Linked DNA regions of Homo sapiens. The protein of the gene in region 1 interacts with the protein of each later gene in a biochemical or structural test. Each region holds a gene or a part of one and is shown on either strand. Other genes may lie near its edges.

What was found.
Region 2: the proteins of RAPSN (region 1) and KHDRBS1 form a complex in vitro, tested with the Homo sapiens proteins (one study listed by BioGRID).

Annotation. Positions count from the first base shown.
Region 1 is NC_000011.10:47,447,216-47,450,965, forward strand, and holds the start of RAPSN (43 kDa receptor-associated protein of the synapse), read right to left. Parts: upstream 1,922-3,750; 5' UTR 1,750-1,921; coding exon 1,558-1,749; intron 936-1,557; coding exon 597-935; intron 223-596; exon of another isoform or gene 112-222; intron 1-111. UniProt on the Homo sapiens protein: Postsynaptic protein required for clustering of nicotinic acetylcholine receptors (nAChRs) at the neuromuscular junction. It may link the receptor to the underlying postsynaptic cytoskeleton, possibly by direct association with actin or spectrin.
Region 2 is NC_000001.11:32,016,857-32,020,606, reverse strand, and holds part of KHDRBS1 (KH domain-containing, RNA-binding, signal transduction-associated protein 1), read right to left. Parts: intron 1-3,750. UniProt on the Homo sapiens protein: Recruited and tyrosine phosphorylated by several receptor systems, for example the T-cell, leptin and insulin receptors. Once phosphorylated, functions as an adapter protein in signal transduction cascades by binding to SH2 and SH3 domain-containing proteins.

The DNA.
Region 1 (3,750 bases):
TTTGAAATTATGACACCCCCACGCCCAGTGCTGCCAGCCCTTTGCCCCGCTTCGCTTTCTCCTAACCACTTGACTTCCTGACTGTGTTGATCGTCTTTCTTCTCCAACTAGAATGCAACCCTCGTGAGGACGGGGACTTGGCTGTTTTTCTCACTGCTACACCCTGGGTCAACAGTCTTGGGATACAGTAGCTGGTCAATAAATATTTGATGACTGACTCCATACAACCCCACTGTAAGGTGAGTCCTATTCTCCTTCATTTTACAGATCTCTCCCAAGGTTCAGAGAGGATAGGTGACTTGCCCAAGACCACACAGCAAACATGGCAGTGCAGGCCGCTGGCCTGTCCTCACAGAGGAGCCTCCCATTATTCCTCCAGGAAGTCACACAGATCAAGGTTTGAATCCTGGCTCTGCCCTTGCTGGCTTCCTGGCCAAGTTGTTACCTTCCTGGATAAGCCTTTTTGCTCTCTGATTCTCACTCTCCTCAGCCCTCCCTAAAAGGAGGGCTGAATGAGGTAGTGCCACAGGGTGTGTGCCTCATGAGAGGGGAGCCCCAAAACCCTCCACTGCTGTCCCCCTGGGGTGCAGGCCCACCTTGACCTGGGCATAGAAGCTGCCCAGGCTGCAGCACACGCGGCACTCGAGCATGGCGTCATCATTGTTGTGGGCATAGCGCAGGGCCTTCTCGAAGCTCTCCAGGGCCTTCTGGAAGACGCTGAGGCCCAGGAAGGCATTGCCCATGCTCAGGCTGACCTGGCCTCCGAGCTGGGCACCTGCCCTGGTACCAGGCAGCCCAAGGCAGGTCTTGCAGTAGGAGATGGTCTTGTGAAACTCGCACAGCTTCTCGTTGCTGCGTGCCAGGTTCAGGTAGCTCTCCAGGAGGAAGTCGGCATCCTCCAGCTCCCGGGCCGTGTCGATCTGGACCACAGCGAACTGCACACAGCGACGGTGGGCAGGTGGTGCTCAGCCTGGACTCTGAGCCTTGGACCCCAGCCTGCACTGCAGGCTCAGACCTGGAGGCCCCACACCCACCCCCCAGCCTCACACCCAAAGCAGCAGATCCCAAAGCTTCTTTTCAGACCCAGAGCTTCTACCCGCCAGCCTCAGCTACCTTCCCTACACCCCAGCCTCACCTCCCAAGCTCAGGCTTGCAGCCTTCACCTTCTATCCCAAGCCTCAGATCTGGAGTCTCCACCACCCACCCACCCCCAGCCGCAACCCTGGAGCCCACACCCCGCCAGGCTCAGACACAGAACACCAGACAGGAAGGCTGAAACCTACAATGGGCTTGAGACCCACAAACCCTCGACCCTGAGGCTGGAGAACCTCAGTCTCAGAGACTCGGGCACCACAGTTCAAGGCCACAGGCCTGAATCTGATGCCAAGACTCAGTATCTAAGACCCAGGGCCTTAGATATAAATTCAGAGCCTCGGGCCCTGGCTGCCAGCCTGTGGGACACAGGGGAGCCCGAGGAGGCCGAGAGGGGACTGGGGAGCCTGGGAGACATCCGGCCCCAGCCTGACCCTCGAACGCCCCCAGGCCGGGTACACCCACCTTCAGCATCTCCTTGTAGCGGCCCATCTCCGAGTGGGCTGTGACCAGGCAGCCCAGCACGCGGAAGCGCCCCATGAGGTCCGAGCTCTTCTCCAGCACCTTTGTCCACACCTGCAATGCCTTCTCTGTCTGGTTGGACTGGTACAGCTGGAGCCCCTTCTCGATCTGCTGCTTGGTCTGGTCCTGCCCCATCCTCCCCAAGCCCTGTGTCCCACGTGGGGTGATCCCTGGTGGCTCCGTGCCTCTAGGCACTCATGGGGCAGGAATCACAGTGCCAGCTGCCCCCCGAAACGTGGGAACAAAAGCAGCGTCGGGTGGGAGCCGGAATGGGGCCTGGATGGAGAGCAGGCGCCACCCTGGGAACAAAGCTGGTTCAGCCCGTCTGCAGCTGTCGCTGCCAGTTGGGGCCACATGGCCTCTGAGGAATGTCAGCAGCAAGGTCACGTGGGCCTCTGCTGCACCCACCCGCGAGCTGGGACGTGGCTTCCCTGAGCATACAGGCACCTTGCCACCTGGGCACCCCCTTGGGCGTCCCTTAGGCACCTCTGACACTGACCCTGACCGCCCTGGCAGCACGGGCCCTCCCAGCAGCCTTGCCAAGGGGCCAGCTCCAGCAAGTGGGCAGGCCTTGGGCTAGAGGTGCTCGGGGGAAGGAGAGCGAGGCTGGACCTGCAGGTCCGGGGAAGCCAGGTGAGCGCCCAGCCCTGCTTCTTCCCCATCAAGACACCCCTGACCGCAGCATCCCCTGGCTCTGTTCCTGAAATTCACTGAGCACCGTGGGTCACTCATCCAGGCCCAGGCTGACACCATTCACCAACTCTCACCTTAGAGAGTCTGGGAAAGACCTCCAGCTGGTGAGAGGCCTGAGCTCTAGCCTGGCTTCCTTCGAACTCTCAGTGGGACCCTAGCCAAGTGACCTGGCACCGTGGACTGAAGAGAGGAATGGTACCTGGCTCACTGGACTGCTATGAGAACTCAATGACGAAAGAGTTGAGAAGGACTTAGGACAGTGCCCGGCACAGGAAACCCCGCATGTGCTGCAAGAGGCTATTTTGCTCCATGGCAAATCCCCACCCGGGCCAGAACCCAGCCCTTGAAGTTTCAATGTCTCACTTCCAATCCCAACCCCGGGCTGAAAGGGTCCTCATAATGAGATTTAACACCAGATACTGTGGAGAAGGGCAAGGTCTTATGTAGTATTGGGGCCCCCGCTAGCAGGCCAGCTCATCCAGCCCCCCTTTCTCCTCTCTCTGCATGCCAGCCTTCTTCCTGCCCCAGGGCAAAAGTTTATCCTTTCTGGCTGGGCAATTCAGTGGTTTTTAGTATATTCACAGAGATGCACATTAATTGCCACTAATTCCAGAACATTTTAACCACCCCAAAAAGGAGACGCACACCCATCAGCAGTTACACCACTCCATTCCCCACCTTGATATGACTGAATCATGTCCCCCCGCAACCAAACGCATATGTTTAAGTCCTAACACTCAGTATCTCATAAGGTGACTGTCTTTGGAGACAGGGTCTTTAAAGGGTGATTAAGGTAAAATGAAGTCACATTGTACCTCATCCAGTTAAGACTGGTATCCCCCCCCCCTTTTTTTTGAGACAGGGTCTCACTCTGTCACCTAGGCTGGAGTGCAGTGGTGCAGTCACAGCTCACTGCAACCTCTACCTCCTAGGCTCAAGTGACCCTCCCACCTCAGTCTCCTGGGTAGCTGAGACCACAGCTGTCTAGTTTTTGTAGAGATGGGTTTCACCATGTTGCCCAGGCTGGTCTTGAACTCCTGGAGGTGGAGGTTTCAGTGAGCCGTGATTGTGCCACTGCACTCCAGCCTGAGCACCAGAGCAAGACCTTGTCTCAAAAAATAAATAAACAATAAATTTTTATTTTTAAAAATTATTTTTGAGACGGAGTTTTGCTCTTGTTGCATAGGCTGGAGTGCAGTGGCACAATCTCAGCTCACTGAGACTTCTACCTCCCGGGTTCAAGCAATTCTCCTGCCTCAGCCTCCCAAGTAGCTGGGATGACAGGTGTATGCCACCACGCCTGGCTAAGTTTTTGTATTTAGTAGAGACGGGGTTTCACCATGTTGGTCAGGCTGGTCTTGAACTTCTGACCTCAGTTGATCCACCTGCCTCAGAGCCTCCCGAAGTATTGGGGTTATAGGCGTGAGCCACCATGCCTGACCA
Region 2 (3,750 bases), on another chromosome or scaffold:
ACTGTTCCACTGTATGGGTGTGCCAGTTTATTGGAGGCATTTGGTTTGTTTCCAGTTTTTGGCTACTATGAATAAAGCTGCTGTGAACATTCATGTACAGGTTTTGTGTTGAGTTTTAATTTCCCTGAAATAAATACCCAAGAATGCAACTGTTGAACGATACGGTAAGCACGTTTTTTTTTTGAGACAGGATCTCACTGTTGCCCAAGCTGGAGTGCAGTGGCACGATCTCAGCTCAAGGCAGCCTCGACCTCCTGGGTTCAAGCGATTCTTCCACCTCAGCCTAAGACCAATCTCCTGGGTTCAAGTGATCCTTCTGCTTCAGGCTCCCGGGTAGTTGGGACTATGGGTGTGTGCCGCCATTCTCAGCTAATTTTTAAATTTTCTGTAGAGACAAGCTCTCACTAGGGCTCAAGCAATCCTCTCACCTTGGCCTCCCAAAGTCCTGGGATTACAGGCATGAGCCACCATGCCCAGCCAATAAGCACATTTAGTTTTGTAAAAAACAAAAAACAAACAAACAAACAAAACCTGCATTGGGCTGGGCATGGTGGCTCACACCTGTAACACAGGCACTTTGGGAGGCTGAAGAGGGAGGATCATGGTCAGGAATTTGAGACCAGCCTGGCCAACACGGTGAAACCCCATCTCTACTAAAAATACAAAAATCAGCCGGGCATGGTGGTGGGCGCCTGTAATCCCACCTACTCGGGAGGCTGAGGCAGGAGAACTGCTTGAAACCGAAAGGTAGAGGTAGCAGTCAGCCAAGATCGCGCCACTGCACTCCAGCGTGAGCGACAGAGCGAGACTCAATCTCAAAACAAACAAACAAACAAAAAAACAAAACCTGCAATATCACAGATAAATGTATACTTAATGATATTCTGCTTTATCTTACTAGGCTTTGTTTTATAGAAATAGTATTATACTGTATGTAGTCTTATGGGATGTACTTTCTTCATATAACATTAGATTTTGGAGATTTCTCCATGTTGTTGCCTGCAGCTATAGTTCATCCATTTTCACTGCTGTACAAATATTTTCTTTTTCTTTCTTTCTTTCTTTTTGTTTTTTTTTGAGATTGAGTTTCACTTGTTGGCTAGATCTCAGCTCACTGCAACCTCTGTCTCCCGGGTTTCAGCAATTCTCCTGCCTCAGCCTTCCAAGTAGCCGGCATTACAGGCACCTGCCACCACGCCCAACTAATTTTTGTATTTTTAGTAAAGACAGGGTTTCACCATGTTGGTCAGGCTGGTCTTAAACTCCTGACCTCAGTTAATCCACCCGCCTCTGCCTCCCAAAATGCTGGGATTACAGGCGTGAGAAACTGTGCCCAGCCAAATATTTTCTGTTGTAAATCTATCACATTATCCAATGAATGGTGAAACAAGTTGCAATGTTTTGTGAACAAGGTACACCATTTCATGAATCAAGTGCTCATGTATAAGTTTCTTTGAGCATATTCCTAGAAAAGGTGTTGCTGGTTTTTTGTTTGTTTGTTTGTTTTTTAAGACAGAGTCTCGCTCTGTCGCCCAGGCTGGAGTGCAGTGGCGGCGCAATCTCGGCTCACTGCAAACTCCACCTCCTGGGTTCAAGTGATTCTCCTGCCTCAGCCTCCTGAGTAGCTGGAATTACAGGCTCCCGAGTAGCTAGGATTACAGGCACGTGCCACCACACCCAGCTATCTTTTGTATTTTTAGTAGAGACAGGGTTTCACCATGTTGGTCAGACTGGTCTCGAACTTCTGACCTCAAGTGATCCGACTGCCTTGGCATCCCAAAGTGCTGGGATTACAGGCATGGGCCACCGCACCTGGCCTTACTCTCCAGTTTGTTTGTTTGTTTGTTTTTGAGACGGAGTCTCACTCTGTCCCCCAGGCTGGAGTGCAGTGGCGCGATCTCGGCTCACTGCAAACTCCGCCTCCCGGGTTCACGCCATTCTCCTGCCTCAGCCTCCCCAGTAGCTGGGACTACAGGCGCCCGCCACTGCGCCCGGCTAATTTTTTTGTATCTTTTAGTAGAGACGGGGTTTCACTGTGTTAGCCAGGATGGTCTTGATCTCCTGACCTCGTGATCCACCCGCCTCGGCCTCCCAACGTGCTGGGATTACAGGCGTGAGCCACCGCACCCGGCCTGTTTGCTTTTTTGAGACGGAGTCTCACACTGTCGCCCAGGCTGGAGTGCAGTGGTGCGATCTTGGCTCACTGCAACCTCCGTCTCCTGAGTTCAAATGATCTTCCTGCCTTAGCCTCCTGAGTAGCTGGGATTACAGGCGCCCACCACCACACCAGGGGTAATTTTTTGTATTTTTAGTAGAGACAGGGTTTCACCACGTTGGCCAGGCTGGTCTCGAACTCCTGACCTCGTGCTTTGCCTGCCTCGGCCTCCCAAAGTGCTGGGATTACAGGCATGAGCCACCAGGCCCGGCCCTTATTTTCCAGTTTTAAAAGCAGGTTTTGCTAGCCCTGTAGAATGAACTGGGAAGGTCTTAATGTATTTCTAGAGAATACTGTAAATAAAGGAATTAACTATTTTGAAGTTTCAACAGACTTTGTAAATGTTTTCCACTGTATGCTTTTGAAGGATGGATTTTTGAGTATCTCTCCAAGATCTTTTGCAGATTGCTAATCTATTCAAAATGTTTATTCTTGAGTCACTTATACTAACTTGTATTTCCCTAATTGTAGAAAGTAGAAAAATAGGCCGGGCGCAGTGGCTCATGCCTGTAATTCCAGCACTTTGGGAGGCCGAGGCAGGCGGATCACCTGAGGTCGGGAGTTTGAGACCAGCCTGACCAACATGGAGAAACCCCGTCTCTACTAAAAATACGAAATTAGCCGGGCGTGGTGGCACATGCCTATAATCCCAGCTACCAGGGAAGCTGAGGCAGGAGAATTGCTTGAACCTGGGAGGTGGAGGTTGCGGTGAGCCAAGATCGCGCCATTGCACTCCAGCCTGGGCAACAAAAGTGCAACTCCGTCTCAAAAAAAAAAAAAAAAAAAAAAAAGTAGAAAAAGAACACTGGTATCTATACAACAGCATTTTACTTACTATATAAATATATTAACACAATAAGGTAAATTATTTCTCTTCCAGAAAACAAAGATAGATGATTGAATCCTTATGTCTGCAGACACATTCGAATATATACAACAGCATTTTACTTAGTATATAAATATATTAACACAATAAGGTAAATTATTTCTCTTCCAGAAAACAAAGATGGATGATTGAATCCTTATGTCTGCAGATACATTCGACAGTCATCACAGCTGAATATCAATCTGGCTAACATAGAAGTCTACATTCAAAATCTACATCCCTCAAAATTTTGTCTTTTTTTTTTTTTTGAGACGGAGTCTTGCTTCTTCACCCAGGCTGGAGTGCAATGGTGCAATCTGGGCTCACTGTAACCTCCAACTCCCGGTTTCAAGTGATTCTCCTGCCTCAGCCTCCCAAGTAGCTGGGATTACAGGCATGTGCCACCACGCCCGGCTAATTTTTGTATTTTTGGTAGAGACGGGGTTTCACCATGTTGGCCAGGCTGGTCTTGAACTCCTGACCTCAAGTGATCCGTCTGCCTCAGCCTCCCAAAGTGTTGGGATTATAGGTGTGAGCCACCGTGCACGGCTGTCATCATTTTTTCATCAGTCCCATCTTCAATGAAGGTGAATATGTATTATTTCGTGAAATATTTAATAAGAGGCCACTCTGTGCAGCACTCTTCAAGGCATAGAAGATACAACGGTGA